2 separate regions of the Homo sapiens genome follow, and region 1 is linked to region 2. The links come from fine-mapping of genetic effects on gene expression. A gene starts in region 2. The other region holds a variant in brackets. All regions are shown on one strand. Distances are between the middles of the regions.

Region 1 (8,000 bases), 78 kb before region 2:
GTGCAGCAAGTCTTCAGGTGGCGATATCTGATAGGCAATGGATATATTCATCTGGAAGCCAGCCAGAAAAGTGGTCTTTGCTGAAGATAGGGATTTGTGAGTCTTTAGTGTATTTAGGGGGTTGAAGCTGTGGAAGAATATGTAGAGTGAAAGAAGGTAGCCTTGGTTAGTAATAATATTTATTTACTCATTACTGTGTGCCAGGTACTGTGCTAAATGCCTTACATTGACCACCTCCTTCAGTCCTCATGATAGTTCTCCAGGGTTGGTATCATTTATTATTATTATTCCTACTTTTCTGATATTGCAGTCCCAGAGAGATTATGATTTGCCCCAGATCATCAGATTAACTCCAGAAGCCTTACTCATCTTCAGAGCATTACATTTCCTCTCCAATTTGAGAGAGTTAAATGGAAACGACCAGGAAAGACAGAATTCGTAATTGGAGAACAGAGGAAGTAAGAGAGAAGGTCACCAAAACTAAAAGAGGAGAGAAATAATAAAGGGTGTTGTTAACACTGTAAGTCACAGGTAGATCCAGTAAGGTAAAGATTGAGATAGATATTTTGGGAACAAGAAAGATGGAAGGAATTCATTCACTGACCAAATACTTGTTGAGCTACTGCTGTATACCAGGTAATCTTCTAGGAAGATACTGCAGAGAACAAAATAGCCTAAAGTTCTGGAGCCATAAATTCTAATTATCACAAGAAGGAAGATCATCTATTGAAAGTGAGAGGTATTTACTATGGGCAGGCTTTTACATTATTATAAATCCTGAAGTCTGTCTAAGACAGAGATTATCCCTGTTTTACAGATGAGGAAATTGAAGCTCACTGAGGTTAAGAAACTTGCCTAAGGTAAATAGAGGATCTAGGATCACAATGATAGTGTCTGTGCTCTTTCCATTGTGCTATACTGACGTGCATTGGAGTGAAAATGCAAAGAAGGGTTCCTCTGGTGTGTAGGAGTGAAAGTTTGAAATGTCGGTCCTGGGAATAAGACAGCCTGCTATGTACACATGTAATAATAGTCACACAGCAGGCCAGGTGCAGTGGCTCACACCTGTAGTCCTAGCAATTTGGGAGGCCGAGGCAGGCGGATCACGAGGTCAAAAGATCAAGACCATCCTGGCCAACATGGTGAAACCCCATCTCCACTAAAAATATAAAAATTAGCTGGGCGTGGTGGTGAGTGCCTGTAGTCCTGTCTGCTCAGGGGGCTGAAGCAGGAGAATTGCTTGAACCCAGGAGGCGGAGGTTGCAGTGAGCTGAGATTGCACCACTGCACTGCAGCCTGGCGACAGAGCGAGACTCCATCTCAAAAAAAAAAAAAGAAAAAAAAATGGTCATACAGCATCGAGGACTCCTATATTTGTATTGGCCACAAATCACACAGTTCTTCAAATGTTATAATAAAAACACTCTCATATGTGGTATTTATGTGTCACTAGTTTAAAAGTTTTTGTATTATTATTACTGGATACTCTAACCCCAGTGAATGAGGTAGCCAATGTTATCCCCATTTTACAAATGAGCAAAAGAGTTTCAGAAGTCGTGATTTTGACCGAGATCTTTGGGTAAGAACTGATAAGCTGAATCAGACTTGAGACCTTTGACTTTCAATCTGAATTTCTTGTGTAGTACAATTCTACTTAATTTTTTTCTTTAAATAGTAGCATTTTTCTTTCTAGTAAGATGTTTATTTTTAAATTATACTTGACGTAATATATGATCATGTTCATATTCTTAGAACATACAGAAAAGCAAAAAATATCACCTGTAATGTTGAGAACCATATTTAACAAAACAACTTTCTAGCTTTTGTTTTTCATGAGCTATGTAGGTTTTTAACGTAATTATATTCATGGTATCTATATAACTATCTTTTTTTTTCAACTTTGAGAATATTTTCCCACATTGCTAAATTGTTTTGAAAATACATTCCATCTTATCGATATACCATATTTTAAAAATCATTTGCTTGTTAGCCATTGAAGATGTTTTCAGTTTTTCATTATAAATACTGAAAAATAATTTTTATATATAAATATTTGCACGTATCCTATTTCCCTAGGGTAACTTTGTAAAAATGAAATTGCTGGGTCAAAGGAGGTAAATATTTTTAAGGCTCTTTTATTTTACAATGTCAAAAATATTTTCTAGAAGGACCCTAGCATTTTGCATTCCTCTCAATATTAGTAATTATTTCTGTAAACATTGTTGTAATAAATGAAAATTGAAATCTTACTGTTTTACTTGCATTTCTGTGATTAATCTGAGGTTAAATTATCTTTCATATTTATTAGCCATCTGCATTCTGTGTTTCATCTGTTTATCCCTTTGTCTGTTTTTTTCTTAGGAATTTGTATTTGTGTCTTCCTCTTGAGATTAAAATGGTAACCCATTGTTGGAGGAGGATAATTTAATGGGCAAAGCATTGCCTTTGAAGTCAAGACCTGAGTTTGAATGCAGTCTGTCTGTCTGTTTATTTATTTATTTATTTATTTTTGAGACAGGGTCTCGCCCTGTCACCAGGCTGGAGTGCAGTGGCGTGATCGCAGCTCACTGCAACCTCCGACTCCCTGGTTCAAGCTATTCTGCCTCAGCCTCCCTAGTAGCTGGAATTACAGGCACACGCCACCACGCCCAGCTCATTTTTGTATTTTTAGCAGAGACGAGGTTTCACCATGTTGGCCAGGATGGTCTCGATCTCCTGACCTCATGATCCGCCAGCCTGAGCGTTGCAAAGTGCAGGGATTACAGGCGTGAGCCGCCATGCCTGGCCCTTATTATTTATTTTAGCCTAGCAAATACAGCTTTGGGCAAGTTACTGAACTGCTGAGTGTTTTTCCTCTTCTTTTAAAAAAGTAGTAAAAGACTAAAGAATTTATTTTGGATTTCGGCACTGTTTAGAGAATAATCTACCTCTTGAACATTGATTTGATATTTCATTTATCATATTAACTTCCTAACTGCCAACGTTTGTTTGGCATATCTTTTATAATATTTAGAAGCATAAAATATCTCTTCATATATCCAGATCAAATATGTGTCTCAGACAAGCTTTGCAGTTTTTTTCAAACAGAGCCTACATATTTCTTGATCTAGGTTGATTCTGAATTTTCTGTTTGTTACCTCTGTAAACGAGATTTTCCTGTTGCCTGAGGAATGCTTGTCTTGAGAGATGTTGTTCAAGCACTGAGAATTCCATGCTCACTTCAATTTGGGAAACATATCATAGTGTATTTCTCTTTTGAAGATTTATGGTATTTAAAGTCTTCATAAATTCAGTGATGGACTAACTTGTTTAACTTTGAGAAAAAGATTACTCATCCTTGGAGCACATATTTACTTGTAATTATGATACTGGAATTAAATGACAGTATAGATAGTTTGGTTTATTTGATACAATTCTAGACTACTGGCATTAATTGGCATTCGATTTTAAAGTGTTTAGATTTCATTTAAGTATTAGTAAAACTAAATCTTTAATTCAGAAATTCATAAGCACATTATAAAGCACCACTTGAGCTCTACTGGCTCTGCTTATTTGACCTCAGTAGCCTCTGCCCTAGAGCTCTTATGCTTTTTGTGCCTTCCTGCTTTGTCTAGCCCCCTGATTGGCATTTTGGGGACACCATCTCTGTGCAATGGGCCCCAAGTAGCAGCGGTTGTATCTTTCTTCCAACAAACAGAGGAAGAAGTGGTCCTGCCAGGGTTACTCCTTTCCCAGCAGAGAGGTTTGGCCAGGTTTATGCACAGGCATTG[T/C]TGTTTTTATTTTGAGCATGTGTGTGAGAAAGGGGTGGGTAGTTGCAGAAGCTGAGTGTTTAAGAGGGCTAGGGCAAGAAGAACTTGTACAGAGAGTGACAGGGACATGGGGAAGGCAGGGAAGGTAGAGAGATTAAAGCCAAGAAGGAGTAATGAGGTGCTGGCCAATATGTGAGACAGATGTAAAAGGCCAGTATTTTGGTACATGGATACCTTGTTTTATTGCACTTCACTTTATTGCACTTTACAGATATTGCAATTTTTACAAATTAAAGGTTAATGGCAACCATGTGTCAAGCAAGTCTGTGGGCACCATTTTTCCATCAGCATGTGGTGACTTCGTATCTGTCACATGTTGGTAATTCTCACAAGATTTCAAACTTGTCATTATTATATTTCTTGTGGTGCTCTATGATCAGTGATCTTTGACGTTACTATTGTAATTGTTTTAAGTGCCATGAATGACACCCATATAAGATGACAAACTTAATGGATAAATGTTGAATGACTTCTGACTGCTCTGCTGACCAGCCATTCCTGTCATTCTTCCTCTCCTTGGGCCTCCCTAGTCTCCAGTATTGAAATTAGGCCAATTAATAACCCTATAGTGACCTCTAATTGTTCAACTGAAAGAAGGAGTCATAGGTCTCTCACTTTAAATCAAAAGCTAGAAATGATTAAGCTTAGTGGGAAAGTGTGTCAAAAGCTGAGATAGGCTGAAAGCTTGGCCTCTTGCGCCAATTAGCAAAAGTGCTAATTCAGTGAACACACGAATGATAAGAAAGAGAAACAGCCTTATTGTTAGAGAAAATTTTAGTGGCCTTAATAGAAGAGCAAACAAACCACAACATTCCCTTAAGCAAAAGCCTAATTCAGGGTAAGACTCTAGCCCTCTTCAATTCTGTGAAGGCTTGAGAAAGATGAGGAAGTTTCAGAAGAAAAGTTTGAAGCTAGCAGAAGTTGGTTCTTGAGGTTTAAGGAAAGCAGCTGCCTCCATAAAATAAAAATGCAAGATGAAGCAGAAGTGCTAATGTAGAAGCTACAGCAAGTTATCTAGCTAAGATCATTGAATGAACAGATCATTAAAGAACGGATTTTTGATGTAGATGAAAAAGCAGTTTTCTATTGGAAGAAGATGCCATCTAGGACTTTCATAGCTAGAGAGAAGTCAAGGCCTGCTTTGAAGCTTCAAAGACAGGCTGACTCTTTAGTGACTAATGCACCTGGTGACTTTAAGTTGAAGCCTGTGCTCACTTGCCATTCCCCAAATCCTAGGGCCCTTAAGAATTATACTAAATCTACTCTGCCTATGTTCTATAAATGGAATAGCAAAGCCTAGATGACAGCACATGTGTGTATAGCATAGTTTACTGAATATTTTAGGCCCACTGTTGAGGCCTTCTACTCAGGAAAAAAGATGGCTTTCAAAATATTTCTGCTCATTAACAGTGCATCTGGTCACTCAAGAGCGCTGATGGAGATTAGTGTTGTTTTCATGCCTACTAAGACAACATCCATTCTGCAGCCCATGGATCAAGGGGTAGTTTTGACTTTCATGTCTCATTATTTAAGAAATAAGGTTATAGCTACCCAAATAGTGATTAACTCTGATAGATCTGGGCAAAATAAATTGAAAACCTTCCAGAGAAAGGATTCACCATTCTAGATGCCATAGAACATTCGTGATTCACAGGAAGAGGTCAAAATATCAACATGAACAAGAGCTTGGAAGAAGTTGATTTTAACCCTCATGGATGACTTTGAGAGGTTCAAGACTTCAATGGAGAAAGTAACTACAGATGTGGTAGAAATCACAAGAGACCTAGATTTAGAAGTGGAGCCTGAAGATGTGACCGAATTGCTGCCATCTCAGATAAAACTTGAATGGATAAGGAGTTGCTTCTTATGGATAAGCAAAGAAAGTGGTTTTATGGAATGGAATCCACTCCTGGTGAAGATGCTGTGAACATTGTTTAACTGACAACAAAGGATTTAGACTATTATATAAACTTAGTTGATAAAGTAGCGCAGGGTTTGAGAAGACTGACTCCAATTTTGAAAACAGTTCTACCAGGGGTAAATGCTGTCAAACATCATTGTATGCTGCAGAGAAATCTTTCATGAAAGAGTTGATTAATGCAGCAAACTTTATTGTTGTCCTATTATAATAAATTGCCACAGCCACCCCAACCTTCAGCAGCTACCACTCTGATCAGTCAGCAGCCATCAACATCAAGGCAAGACCCTCCCCCTGCAAAAGTTTAGGACTTGCTGAAGGCTCAGATGATTATTAGCATATTTTAGCAATAAAATATTTTTAATTAAGATATGTACATTTGTTTTTTAGCCATAATGCTATTGCACGCTTAATAGACTACAATATAGTGTAAAATAACTTTTCTATGTACTGGGAAACCAAAACATTTGTGTGACTTGCTTTATGGCAATATTCGCTTTATCACAGTGATCTGGAATAGAACTTGCAATATCTCCAACGTATGCCAGTACTTAAAAATAGCACAGAATAGCAAAAACTAATAAAACCAATAAAAACAAAGAACAAAAACGAATATTGCAGCTATTAATATTAGTATAAACATCTATTCTTACCTATGTATTAATCACTGGTGTTATGTACAAAAACTATTGATTTTTTTGGGGTGTAGTACCACAAATTCTGATAGGTTTTCAGTAGATTTTTCTGAGTATTCTAGATAGATGTCTATTGTCTACATATAATGAAAAATAGTTCTTGTTTTTTCCTTATAGTTTTACCAGCTAAATATCTTGTCTTGGCCAGAAACTTCTAGGGAAATATTAAATAACAGTGCTAACTGGCATCTATTTTATTCCTTTTGGAAATGCCAAATATATATGATGAGATTTGAAAGGTTTTTGATTTGTTTCTATCATGTTAAATGTCCTTCCATTTATAGTTAAGAATAGTCAGGAGTGGATGCTGAATTCATATGAAATGTCTCTTCAATTCTTATTCATGTGATGGATTTTCCTAATATTACACCTTCACTATGTAAAATCCTTGGTATAAACTATATTTGCTCTTAGTGGATTATTTTTAATGTAACTTAATATTTTATTGAGCATCTTTGCACCTATGTTTTTAAGTGAGATTAGTTTATATAGTTGTGGGCAGAGGGCCAGTGCTATCTTTAATTTTTTGTTTTAGCTTTAGAATTATGCTTACATTGTAAGCTTTGCCTGCCCACCTGTCTTCCTTCACTTATTTCTGTCTTTTGGTATGTTCCGGAATAATTTATATAGCATTAGAGTGAGGCTTTTCCTCAAAGCACTGTTTAAAACCATCTTCTAGAGTTTGGTTGTTGGCCAGGCGTGGTGGCTTGCACTGGTAATCCCAGCACTTTGAGAGGCTGAGGTAGGAGGATTGCTTGAGCCTAAGAGTTTGAGACTAGCCTGGGCAACATAGTGAGACAAAAAAATTTAAAAATCAGCCAGGCGTGATGTGGTGTGTGCCTGTAGTCCCAGGTACTAGGGATGCTAAGGTGGGAGGCTGCAATGAGTAGTGATTGTGCCACTGTATTCCAGCCTGGGCAACAGTGAGACCCTGTTTCAAAAAAATATAAAAATAAAATAAATAATAGAGTTTAGTTATCTTTGTTGGTAGTTTTTATTTCTGTGCTTATTTGGAGTGGGGAGCTGCAAGGGTCATGATCTTTTGATTTTCTGTTTCTTGATTTAATTTGGTATTCTCATTTTAAGAAGCTTTTCTGTCTCATTTTTTTTAAAGATGAGTAAGTAGGAAAGAATAGATTAGGTTTTTTTTCTTTTTTGTCTTTTATAATTTTGAATCATTAGAAAATGCTTATCAGTCAAAACATTCTTTATTAATCTTTATGAAAGTCAGTAAACTTTGGCCTTTTCTTAGATACATGTCAGAGAGCCAAGCATATTCTAGCTAATACCTTGTGCTTCTTACAGAGATCAGCAGGCAAAATAAGCTCATTCAAGAAAAAAAGGATAACTTGTTAAAATTGATTGCTGAAGTAAAAGGCAAAAAGCAGGAATTGGAAGTACTGACTGCAAATATCCAGGATCTTAAGGAAGAATATTCTAGGAAGAAGGAAAGTAAGTTTCCTCTTATAAACATACTGATCTAAAATGGAAAGTGGTGACGGTTCACCTTTATTAAGTACATCTTGCCTGTTCCAGTTCATTGCTAAAAATGGATTACAGTACCCCAGGGCATAACCA
Region 2 (13,382 bases):
TGTTTTCTTCTATAATACTTAATAGCATCCCATGAAACACACCTCAGTGTCATGAGAAGAAAATGCCTAAATGTTTAGTGGGGTACATACTCCTGAAATAAGGTCATTTCTCAGCCTCCCTCCCCCTTTGATCTATAACCATGTGACTGAAAGCTATCCAAGGAGATGTGAGGGAAGGTTTTGTATGAGGTTTCAGTAAAGGCTTGTTTGCCCTCTTTTCTTCCTTCTGGACTTGAAAATGAAGGCCAAAGCCATAAAGTGGTATTGAGATTGGACATAATGCATTAAGATCACAGAGTGGAAAGAGAAAAAGAGCCTGGGTCCCTGATGGCTGTGAAGAACACCACACGAGCCCTCAACTCTCTACTTTTGGATTTATTTTATGTGTAAGAAAAATACAATGTTGTTTTCTAAAGACATATGTATTTGGGGTTTTTCTAATATGCAGCTGAACATAGTTCTAACTCATACAGGGTCTTTTTGCTTTGAATTATGAAACACTTTTATGTTTCATAACATAATGATACAGAAAATAATAATACACATTATGTACTCACTACCTAAGTTATAGAGATTTTAACACTTTGCTTCTGCTTTCTCTTTAAACAACTATTTTTTTCCTTTTCATAATTTATTTGGCTATTCTGAGGCATTTATTCTAACATATGAACATTTGTCTAATTACATTTCTTTTTAAATCCCCGTTGGGATCCTAATTGGAATTGTATTACATACATGTATCAATTTGGGAAAATTGACTTTTTAATGGTGTTTAGACTTTCTATCCAAGGACATAGTAAGTTTTTGCATTTGTTCAAATTTTATTTTATGTTCAATAAAATTTTATGATTTTCTTTATAGGTCCTGTGGCTTTCTTATTTGATTTATTTAGAAATATCTCACAGTATTAAGCTATGGATTTTTATGTATTGTCTTATTGACTTCTCTCCAGCCCACAGCAAAGCAGAAACAAAGACTCAACAAAAAGCCATGGGGCCTTGTGCAAGAGAGAAAGACCTGGATGCATGTTTACGGAGTAAATTCTTCTGCTCTCAAACACACTATAAAGCTGGGGCTGAGGATGGGAGAAAAGAAAGCAGAGAGATGGATTCGAGGGATTTAGAGTGGGAAGGAGAAAAAGAACCTCCCATTAGGGGAAGCAGGAGTGGAAGGAAGGGACTCTGAGATGAAATGTCCTAAGGGAAAGGCCCTACCAGTCCACCATCACCACAGGATAGTCTGCACATAGAAGTTACCTATGGGAGAGAACAAGGGACCCTGGACATCAAGCGTGGAATGGGGGCATGTAGAGAAAACTCTGCTCATAACCAATGTAGAAATGAGTAGAACCAGTTGAGAATTTTTCTATGTGCTTGGGTTACAGGGGCTGCTGCATTTCCTAAACTTATCAAGCCATCAAAACTCCCTAAGACACATTTTTAAATACTGTCTCAAGGGAACTAGTTTTAGGAGGCTAGGCCATGCTGAAAGTTTATAAGCCAGTGATTGAAAACTCAATTGCCTTCAGTGGCAGTGGTGAAGCCTGTGGCAAAGGCATTCACATTCAACCTCTTAAAGTAAGGGGCTGCTGGACCAAAGCACAGTCTATGGCTTCCATTGACCCATGGGCTACCAGGTCTAGATTTTGGAAGATGATTTTCTGTCATTTCATAGACCAGTACTTTCTAACTTTTGTCCCAAAATGGTGCACATAGCAAATATTTGTACTGGTAGAGTGTGGTAAATGGACAAAATTGTTCCAGGAAGAGGGAACTGGCCCATGGCTTTGCCTCGTACCTCGCTCCCAGCCATACTCTGCCAATTCAACGGTGCAGAGGATTTGTGTCTAAGGTACACCTGTAACCCACCCTCAAACCTCAAACGCCAGTATGCCCAGGCACATGCAAGTTGAGAAGATCTTCATACTTGTTGTTAATTTAGCGATCAGATAAGAGATGTGCTTACAAGAGCAATGGAGAGAATCTTTACCCTTGATCCTATATACTATACGCCAAAAATTCCCCCAACAAACCTTGATCCAGATTGAGATAAAGGTGACATCAATAAATAAAAGATTTGCTAAGAATATTTTCATTATCCCAGCATAAACCCTTATTTAGAATCAATCATTCTGTACTTTTCATTATGTACCATCTACTGAGACTTGGAGACAAAAACTGTGAAAAGCAGACCCACTTAAATGCTACAGCAGACTTCCAGAGACCATATAGTTCTCTCTCTCTCTGTGTGTGTGTGTATGTATGTGTGTGTGTGTGTTCAGAAAATCTTGGAACTTACCTGCTTTGTGGGGGTGAAATCACTTGACTTTAGTTTTGGTTGTCTCACTCCTACCTCACCACACTCCCACCCACCAGAGAGGACTCTGAAAGGGTTCCATGGAGCACAGTTTGCAAGCCACCAAAGTCTAATTCCCTTATTTACAGTTAAGACCCAAAGAGATAAGGATAACCTAATTAGTTAGAGACAGAGTTGTGATTAGAAATGTTAGGTATGAAAATCAATTAGAGAATCCATCAGAAACAAATACATTTATAAATGGCTAATCTGTATAATCACAGTAAGTTTACTCCAAGTTATAGTAGCCTTTAAGTGTTATGTGCAATACAGCTGGCTTCTTGATGTCATTAACCAGCACAAGAAGAAGAGCTTGCTGAGAAGAAGTGCAGTCAGGTGGAAGGCAATTTTGGTGTTCTTTTCCTACCCATTGAGCTTTTAAATATCCTAACCCCCTATCAAATATTCATTCCAGGGAATAATCTACTATTGATTCTACATCTCCATATGAATTCATATTAATATGCTGCTTCTCCTGGGGACCATTAATTATTGGGGAAAAAAACACGATGAGGTTTTTCTCCCCTGATAAAGGGATTTCAGTCTGGTAGTGGAATACCTGGGATCTTCCTGAGCCCCTAAAAAAATAATAACCCCTTCTCAAATAGACAACTGGTCTATTTGACAGACATTTCCCATTCGGCCATTAGGAAAATGTTTCTTCCCAGCACTTGTAAGCAAATTCTGTTGATAAATATAGCCATTACAAAAAACATTTAGTAATCCAGCCAGTCAGCACATGAAATGTTTAGACAGGCGACTTGTAAAGATTATAAAGTGCCTATATCAAGCTTGGCCCACCTGCTCTTTCTGCTTGAATGATTAAGAGGGTTAAATTTAGTTCTAGAAAAAGTTATAGAAAAATTTATTTTTATTGATGCTAGTACAGAAGGATTTTTTTTGATTAGTGATGATCCTCACAGTGTTAAAGAAACCATGATATTCCCCTTAAATTTAACACAATGAACTTTGCTGACTGCCTTTACTACGCCAGGCACTGTGCTACTGATATCATGTGAGTTCTGATTCACTGGGGGTGATGTTTCAAAGCACTGCCCCTCTCTGAAGGGATTCCATGTACTTGTTCACCATCTGCGTAGTATTTGGAATCCCTGTGGCAGACTGTCATAGATTACGGGATATGGAACATTAAAGAGCATAGTCTACTCCATCCTTTCCTCCTTTTACTTTACACACAAGGAAACAGAGGTCCAAGAAATGTGGAATGGCATGTTACACATCTCACTGATGCACACTGGGGAGGCTGTGGGCCACGTGACACCCATGCCATATGCAGCCTCCTTCTGTATTTTTGCAGCGAGTCAGATTCTCCTAGGAGCTACGGACCATGGCACCGGCACCATCTGAGTTAGTGACAGTCATTGTCTGATATCCAGGCTAAGCCACCAAGATGGGAAGCTCAGGTTGGCATCTGAGCCAGGTTACCAACCTGAGGAGCAGCCTGGTGCCATTTCAATGGCCGATGACATGCGGGGAGGGGCTGACTGTGTGGCGCCCAGAAGACTTGCTTTGACAGACCCCTTCCTGGATACTGTATGAGTGTGTAAAAAGCAAAAATTTGGCTACAGCTTGTTACTTGTCCTTGATTTCTATGTGATTGTTTGATAGGAAGGTGCTATTAATACTTTCTTATGATTGGATTCTTTCCCTTAGAGATAATTGGATCTTACTTCGCCTTTCTTGCACATGGATTTGAAGATGAGTTCCCTAGACATATTTTTAGGTTTAAGAGCTAAACCTAAACCTTCATAGGCAATGAAACATCAAGGCCCAGAGCCAATTCTTTTCCTTGTCAAAAACAGAACTTTAAAGATATCTTACAGATATCTTTTTCAAATAAGTTCTGACACTCTCAAGATTAATCCTACACAGCATTTAGGCAATCTTATGCCACCCTGGCAACAATTTGAACTCAAACACTGACCTTGCTCTTTGAGGTTGAAAGGCCCAGCTGTCAGTCTATTTTGCCCATTAGAGCTTGATCTAAAAGAGATTTTTAAATTTTTTCGTACCATGAGCCCTTTTTGTAGTCTCATGAAACCTATTTGATTCAGAATAACATTTTTAAGTAGCGTAGGGTTAAAAAGGAAATGAATTATATATTTTTTAGAATGTATTTTTAAAATTATGATATTATGTGCTTTTTTATTAACATACTAAATTACATATCTTAAGTATTACCAACATTTTGAAGTCAGGGTGAATGTAAATATTTCTAGATATGTGCAACAACTGTAATGTTATCATAAAATTTCTGATTTTTATTGGTTACAAAGTCACAGACACTATACAGATATGACTAATAGTATTGGGGCTTGTTGCCTATATTCTGGATTGAATAAAATTCTAAATTTCAGTTAGAAATTAGTACAAATAGAGATTTTTTTTCACTGAAGTTCATGCAACCCACTGAGTTCCATACATGGGTACATTGGTGTGGGCCCGGTTAAGAACAGTAGCTAAGCTAATACTTTATGAACTGTGCTCTGTGCAACTCTAGGGACTCATGGAAGGGGACATTTTGCAGGTGGTTAAAGCTTTGGGTTCTTTTATAAAACTACCTAAATGTTTCATGAGGCACTCATTTGCAATCCATTTCCTTGTCTTATTTTGTTCCCAAACCGCAGATTCATCTTCACATAGCATTGTTCCCCAAGTACAAGCTAAGAATGTGCCAGGAAATCAACTTGAACACTTGATTAAGATGAAACAATTGCAAATAAATAAATGTTCTGTGAGTTTAGAGGGTTTGGAAACCCAGGCTGAAGGGATATCCGCCCTCCCCATGACTCCCGGATACTTTTGGTGGCAATGAGCCCATACAGATGACCTTCAAAGTTTTAGACAAGGACAGGAGTCCTTGGCCCAGCATAGCACAAGGAACTATTCAGCATGCCAGGGAGTGGAGCTTTAAGCAGACACAGAAGTGTGGTTATGGGTTGCCTTGGGGGCTGCTGAAAGAAAACATTTCTCCACGTCTGAAGACTTGACTTTGCTGTCTACAAAAAGGATGTTAGACCTTCAGTTTCTTTTTTATGGATTTATTTCTTCTTCTCTTTTTAAACTTAATTAAAGCTGCCCACCATTTCCCTGTCTTCTGTCCATTGCACCCTTCCCTGGTGTTAATTTTCTTCTTTGGTTACTATTAGTGCCAAGATTTTGCTGCCACTTACCCCATCCCTGTCCTGGCCTGCCGCCCCTATACAAAAACATTGAGGTAGGAGTGTTGAGACAGGAGAGGATTTAACAGTTTAGTCAGGGAGCAACCTCAAGGAGAGAAAAATAAATGATAAAAGACTTCTTAAAAATTATTCACAATTAACAATGGAGAGAACACTGAGATTGAAGTAATTAAAGGGGGAAGTTTCACTCTTAAAAATCTATATATAACCATATCATTGGAATTTGTTTCTACATTAAGCACAAATTATTTCTGTATTTAAAAAAAGGAAAATTAGGCAGAATTGGCTACTATGTTGTCATTATTAAAATTACTAGTCATTTATGAGTTCATCTCATTTAGCTCATCTGATTTTCTGCAATAGTAACTATAGTTCCATTTTTTCCAACCATGTGCTTTTCTTATCCATTGAATAAACAAAAAGGAAATCAATAATCCTCTGCTGATCTTTTTCTTTATGACTTTATCTCAGCGCCCATTTATCTGCCGCCCCACAGTTTGTGTTATCAATACATGAAGGATGACTGCAACCTCCTGCTTATGATGTCACCAATCTTAGCTTTTCAGCCCCATGTGTTGGGATAAAACACTGACCCTCCTTAATTACTTTATTTTCAAAGTAAACATATCCCCCCCTTTATTTTAGTTGCTTCTTATCTCCTAAATTACATCTCTGCTATTGCCGCCGGAGACCTCACAATGTCTTTGGACTTCTGACCAAACTTATATTTTTGGTAGTGCTCCAAACATTACCAAAACGAACAAACATGGAACAAACATGCTGCTAAACCAGTCTGAGAGCCACTGCAGGCCAGGCAGAGTGGGGAGTCTATCCTTCCTCCTGCAGGACTTGTGATCCTTGACTCCAAAAAATGAGGGTGAAAAGGCACAAAAACTCTCCTCCCTCACTTTATTCTCAGAGCCAAAAATTGGCTGCAGACATTCTGTGTGTTTTTGTATCCACACCACACATGATGTTGGCACCATGGGTGTATGTCTTAAGAATGTTTTCCAAACAGCCACCATCTGGATCCAAATATGAGGCTTTACTCTCTCAAAACTTTTTCCAAGAATATGAGAAGGAAAGATGACAATTACCTGCCCTGTCATTTCCTAGAAAAAGCTCTGTTTTTAAACTGAACCAAAGAAAAACCACAAACTTTTGCACCACAGCCAATATCTAAATGTGTTTGGTTTCTGAGTGTCTCAAATTTCTTAAGTTAAAATCCATTAATATACAAATCCACCCTCCACCCTCCTCACACGCAGGCACACAAACCACACTGAGCTACTCACCGGACAATCTGTCAGTGGGTCCCTCATGTTGAAATGTGTCTGGCTTTTGTCCTTTCACCTACGCTCCAGCATTCTGGACACTGTAATCAAGGTTGGGTGTGTCCTGGACTTCCGGGATTCAAAGGGCCTAGAGTACGTCAGTCCTTGTCAAACATTCCAAGGAGGAAGTCCCAGCCCTGGACTTTCATCCCGTTTGTGTCCCGAGAAAGTAAAGAACTGCTCTGGGTCAAGACGGCCAGTGTGAGATAGTGAGAATGACTTCTGTAAACCCTCAGAGGGCAGGATCCTGAGTCCTGAACAGCGTAACATTGAGAGAAGGCAGAGAAGCTGTAACATGTCTCCAACAATTCTTGCGCTTGGTCTGACAGTGCAGGAACACATATCCTCTCAGCCTGCAGTATTAATCATGCTTTTTATTTTCTGTATTGTATGATGCTTTGACCTTTGGGGACCTCATGGACTTGGAGACAGACTGCCTCTCTGAGGGTTAGCTAATTCCTAGAGAGAGCAAACAACTGGCCTGTGAGCACTCCTTTAATATGCAAACCAACAAATCCAGAGCCCAAACCTCCCCACCATCTCTGTTACCCAGTTCTCAAATACCAAGCCCATATTCCCCCACCCCCTAAATCCCACAGGGCCAGACACCAAACAACTAGGAACCTACACCTATAGAACTATAACTATAGAATGTTCAGAAACAGCTATCAGGAGCAAAGCGTACATTAACCACTTCTCTGAGCCTAACTCCACACTCGCTCCAGCCCCAACAGGATCAAGAGGCTAAGCTTTCAATGTAAAGAAAAAATTGCCTAGATCTGGCCTCATTTTTCATCACTCAAAAGGATAGACAGAACAAGAACTCAACCACAGCTTGAGTTCTATTGCATTCCCTGTACCTGTGGTCCCAGTTGCCAATCATTAGATTTCCAATGAATGGCCTATTGATGTACGACAGCCATTTGCTAGACTGTGGACAGTTCTGTTTGACTGGCAGGCAAGGGCAGGCCCCAGTTTGAAAGGAGCTCCATCAACACAGTCCAGTGGAACACTTCAGAGTTTAAAAGCATTCAGTTTTCACCTGACTGGCTGACTCAGCCTCCATTCACCTGCCCCTGGTGTGCAGGCTCCATTCAAAGTCCCTAGAAATAAGCCAGTTGCAGTGGCTCATGCATGTAATCCAAGCACTTTGGGAGGCCGAGCCTAGAGGGTCACTTGAGGCCAGGAGTTTGAGAGCAGCCTGGGCAATATAGCAGGAGATTCCTATCTCTATAATTTTTTTTTTTTAATTAGGATGTGGTGGTATGTGCCTGTAGTCCCAGCTACTCAAGAGGTTGAGGCAGAAGGATTTCTTGGGTCTAGGGGTTCAAAGCTGGGCAATAGAGTGAGACTCTACTTCTAAAAAAAAAAAAAAAAAGCTTCCAGAAACAACGTAGAAGAGTCAGGGGACAATTAAGGAAAAGAACTTGCCTTGCAACAAGAGTGGAGAGGAGGGGTCTTTTCCACACACTTAATGCCCTCCCTCTTTGCTTATCCAAAGAACTTGATCACTGGAGGTTACAACAATCTTGGGTAGCTACCACAGGGCTAGAATTAGACAAAGCAACTCTGTATAATAAAAGAAATTTAGGTAAGGCACAGTGGCACACACCTGTAATCTTAGCACTTTGGGAGGCTGAGATGGGAAGACTGCTTGAGGCCAGGAGTTCGAGACCAGCCTGGTCAACATAGCAACACCCCATCTCTTTTTTTGTTTTTTTTTTAAAAGAAATTTAGAGACAGGATATAGACTGAGGTTAATAACATGTAACTCAAATTCCCACTTGAGGGGGCTTCTCTGCCCTCAGAGATTTTAGATAAACTTGTCCGGAGCCACCATTCCAGGACTTGGGACAGCTCAATGTTTTCTCTGTGATTCCTGCCCCATTTTTCTTGCTGTTCTGTGTTTCATTTCAGTCCCAACTGAGTCCAAACTGAGGAAATTGGCCTCCCTTGCCAGTTTCCATAAGAAGTGCTGTCACACAAAGCCTACTGTGATCTTTGTATACGAATTATAGATTGGTAGGGCACTCCTATCCCCAAACTCCTCATGTGTGCCATTCCCAGTGGGCTGACTAGCTTTCCCTCAGACCTCCTGGACATCTGCTGAATTAAAATCCTTCCATCTTGCTCCTGTCTGCCACTGGGCCGTTGTAAGGGCAGCAGGGCATCCCAGCTGAATCCAGACTGAGAATTAGAACTTGGCTATTTGTTGAGCTTCTCGGAGGAATGTTTGAATGTGCAAAAAGCCTTGATTTTGGAGGTCAGAAATAGGTTGGTATCGTTTATCCTTTGTCACAATAATGCTGTGTAACAAACAGAAACCCAGTGGCTTCAAATGACAGAGACTTTATTTGGTTCACAAATCTGTAGTTTAGCTGGATGGATCTTCAGGTGTCCCCTGACCTCACTCATGTAAAAGCAGGTCATCTACACAGGGCTTGGCAGAGCCATGCATCTGGGCTTTTCTGGGCAGGGGGCTGGCTGGGAGCTAGCTGTTGGCTGAGGCCGTATTTCATCAGCTGGTAGTCTAACCAGGCTCTTCTCAGGGTATGGCAGAGGAGCCACAAGAGTGAGTGGAAGAGCTCGAGGCCTCTGGAGGTACAGCTTAATATGGACATCCCATCATTTCAGCCACATCCAGCTGATCAAAGCCAGTCATGGGCCAGCCCAGATTAAAGGGGTGAGGAGAGCTTCCACTTCATAATAGGAGGAACTTAGTGTCCCATTGCAAAGGGCATAGAGACAGAGAGGGGCAGACAATTGGAGTTAGTTTTCCATTCAATTTACTACAATGGCTGCTTAATATTTGTTCTTGAATGACTAGAGATAAAGCAGCAAGGACAAGGAGCAGGTGGCTGGTATATGTCTTTCTTTCCCTCTCCCCAATCCAGCCTGGGGTGACACGTTTTGAACCTCAGCAGACTGGCGTTAGGAAGAGAAATAAGAGGACCTAAATCATAAAAGACTCTAGACGGATAAGGGCTGTTCTCTCCTCTGACCCCACATTCCACCCTACACATACTCTGCTAAGGAGCACAGCAAAAAGCACCTCTCCTGGATATGGGTTGTGAGGAGGCAGCAGCAGGGAGAACCTGCTAAGTTGTCTTCAGCCACTGAGGCTCAGGTAGGTGAGGCATCTTGATGAGAAGGATAGAGCAGACCACAGTGAGCACATTTGTCCCCGAGCATGTGAGAATTCCTCCAGTCCCCAAAAATGGCCCAAGGGGACTTTGGGAGGAGGAGACTGAGTTCCCATGTGAGTAAGAGGAGCAAAGAATCTTGTAGTTTTGGAATTAATATTAACAACCTCATTTGTACCTACAGGTTGATGAGAATGTGAACCTAAAGGAAAGAACAACTGAGGCCAACTTAATATAAGTAGAGCATTTACTTGGGCCAAGCTTGAGGGCTGCAACCCAAGAGCATAGTTTCAAGTGGCCCTGAGTATACGCTCTGGTTAGCAGCAGGTACAAGTAGGTTTTCAAAGGAAAAGAAGAGGAAGAGGAAGCTCCTGAGTTGTTTGCCAAGAATTTCCATGAAAATAACACAAGCTGTTGATTGGCTCTACACTGTTCTGTGAATCACAAATTCCAGGACCATAAAGATAGCAGATGAGGCAGCTAGTCAGGAACAAGATGCCTTTACATGATTGCTTCTAGGTGTGGGTTCAAGGAGGCAGAGCAAGACTTGAGCCCCATACTCCCCTCTCTGGGCCTGATAAATTTTGCATACCTCATATAGCTCAGACTGCTCTAAGCCATTTTTCTTCTCTCAAGAACTATCTTCTGTCTGTCTGTCTGTCTGTCTATCTATCTATCGATCGATCGATCGATCGAAGCATCTCCTCCAAGAAGGTATGCCATTCACACTTTCTGAAAATTTTAATGCACAAAGAGTCCTTTTGAGTTCTCTGTTCTCAGATTCGTCTCTGGTCCTACATTTCTGACCCGCACTCATACTCTGGCTGCTTTCCAGCCTGGCTTCCGGTTAGATTTACTGTCTGACCTCTCCTATCCTAATCTTCCTGCTTTCTTTCTCAGTCTCTGCTCAGCATGTGCCTTCCTGGTATGGCCTCTCTGCAGAAAGAAAACCTGCAACGGATTCCCTTCCAGGGTCTGGCCTGGAAGCTGCTCTGCTGGACTCCAACTTTGACATTTTGTGCTGCCTCTAAGGGGAGTTAACAACATGAGTACGCATTTATGAAGTATTCACAAACAAATATTGGGTGTTGGTAAGCTAGTAAGAAAAAGGAGCCCAAATGTAATAGAAGCTCATGGCAATTCAAAACTTGCCTTGGAAGTTTCTTTAGTAGCCAAAGCGTGCAAAGAATTGGCAACAGCATGAACATCATCAATTGAGACCTAGTTAAATACTTTATGGTAATATGAGCCCACATTTAAAGGACATACCACGTGTCAGGCACCATTCTAAGTGTTTTACAAATACAATTGGCTCTCCATATCCCTGGGTTCTGCATCTGTAGATTGAAAATAATAATTTTAAAAATAACAATAAAAATACAAATAAGTATTTATGACTATTTATATAACGTTTACATAGCATTAGGTATTATGAGTTACCTAGAGATGATTTAAAGTACATGGGAGGATGTGTGTAGGTTATATGCAAATATGACACTATTTTATATAAGGGACTTGAATATCTTTGGATTTTGATATGAGGGGGTATCCTGAAACCAATGCCCCATGGATACTGCGGGATGACTTATTAACTTATTTAATCATCACAGTTATCATTTGAGGTAGATATGTATTATTTTGATCCTTATAATACCCACAGGGCAACAGAGGCACAAGGTAGAGACAGGGTCTCACCATGTTGCCCAAGCTTGTCTCAAACTCCTGAACTCCAGCGATTCATCTGTCTTGGCCTCCCAAAGTGCTGGGATTACAGAAGTGAACCACCACACCAAGCAACATTAAAAAAAAAAAAAATTTAAGGTTAACACTTATGCTAACTTTAATTTTAAAAAAAGAACTGACAGTTGAGATGATGACATGTTATTTTTGTATCTCTAGGATTTTGCTTATGCTGTCCCTTCCAGTGGGAAGTCCTTATAGCTTTATGTTGGCCCAGCTGACTTTTACTTATTTCCAAAGTCTAGCTTGTGTTGCTTTCCCCAGAGAGAGTGAACTCTTGCCTTTGTACTACTGCTATCCATTGCACACACCTCTTTTACTTTGTTTATCTTATTGTGTTGAAAGTATTAGTTTAGGCTGGGTGTGGCAGCTCATGCCTGTTATCTCAATACTTTGGGAGGCTGTAGCAGAAGGGTTGCTTGAGCCCAGGAGTTCAAGACCAGCCTGGGCAACATGGTAAAACCCCATCTCTACCAAAAATAAAAAATAAAAAAACTAGTCAGGCATGGTGGTACGTACCTGTAGTCCCAGCTATTCAGGAGGCTGAGGTGGGAGGATCACCTGAGCTTGGGGAAATCGAGGCTGCAATAAGCCGTGTTCATGCCACCACACTCCATCCAGCCTGGGTGACAGAGAGAGACCTTGTCTCCAAAAAAAAAAAAAAAAAAAAAAGAAAAAAGAAAAAGAAAGAAAGAAAAGAAAAGTATGAGTTCAATGGTCTGCCTCCCACAGTACTCAGTGAGCTCCTCATAGCCAAGTATCTGGAGCAAAGTAAGTGTTCAATAAATAATTGCTTTCATTTGATTGAATTAAATACTGAGAGAGTGACTTCATTCGCAAGTTTCTCTTTTTTGGCAAGGCAGGGGATATTGTTTACGGGTAGGCCCATATCCTCAGCTATCAGGAAGCAGAGTTCAAAACACTGAGACAGAAGATAAGTGTGACCTTCTGGGCAGGAACTCTAAAATGGGAAATGGCTCCAATGCACTTGGGAGGCTCTGACACTGATTAAAATGGCCTTGACAAGCAGGAAACGAAGTAGGATTCCGCAAGAATCCCAAGGGGCCACTTAGAGAACTTTCTTGGAGGTTTGTTGGTTAAAAGATATAAACAGATGAGGTAAGGAGAGTCTTGGGACTGAGAATAAAATCGAAGAGTGCCCTAATGTTAAGAATAAGTTTGGGAGAGCTGGAGTCTAGAATGAGCAGAGTTCTGACAAGTTTGCCAAGAACATCTAAGAGAATTTTTGCTATATTCACAGCAAGATGACCGTAAAGGGACAGCCCCTGGGCTTGGGGCAGCTGGCCCGCTGGTATTGAAGACCAAGTGAGCAGGAGTACTTAGCCAAGCTGCTGGGGTCCAGCGGTTAAGGGGTCAGGTGGGAGCAGCTAGCTGTCAGCAGGCCACATCTTCAAGAGCACTTTCTTCCTAGGACTAGCTATGACATGGGTGACACGTCTTGACACACCTTAACATGTCTTCCGAAGGCCAACTCCCGGTTCTGAGTCCTGGACGACGCCTAGTCCTTGGCCTGTTTGAGCTGACAGGAGCAGCAGCGTTCCCTGTTGTCACTGCATGCACATGAGTGCCATGGCAGTGTTTACCAT

Alleles and levels. Alleles are on the strand shown, and positions count from the first base shown. SD is a standard deviation of normalised expression in the study named.
As copies of C replace T in region 1, the expression in stomach of the gene that starts at base 6,890 in region 2 goes up (small effect, 0.31 SD a copy in GTEx).

What was found.
Region 1: its variant is fine-mapped to the expression of NOSTRIN in stomach (GTEx, PIP above 0.99).

Annotation. Positions count from the first base shown.
Region 1 is chr2:168,877,112-168,885,111 of GRCh38, reverse strand. It overlaps SPC25 (SPC25 component of NDC80 kinetochore complex), which reads left to right. Exons shown (of 7, transcript NM_020675.4): 4 at 7,728-7,874. Among named protein-coding and RNA genes, the nearest start is that of SPC25, 9.3 kb to the left of the region's middle. The variant T/C (reference allele first, on the strand shown) is at 3,771.
Region 2 is chr2:168,796,145-168,809,526 of GRCh38, reverse strand. NOSTRIN (nitric oxide synthase trafficking) reads right to left here and starts at 6,890. Exons shown (of 16, transcript NM_001039724.4): 1 at 6,854-6,890. The coding sequence starts at 6,880. RefSeq lists enhancers at 6,947-7,446, 10,774-11,068.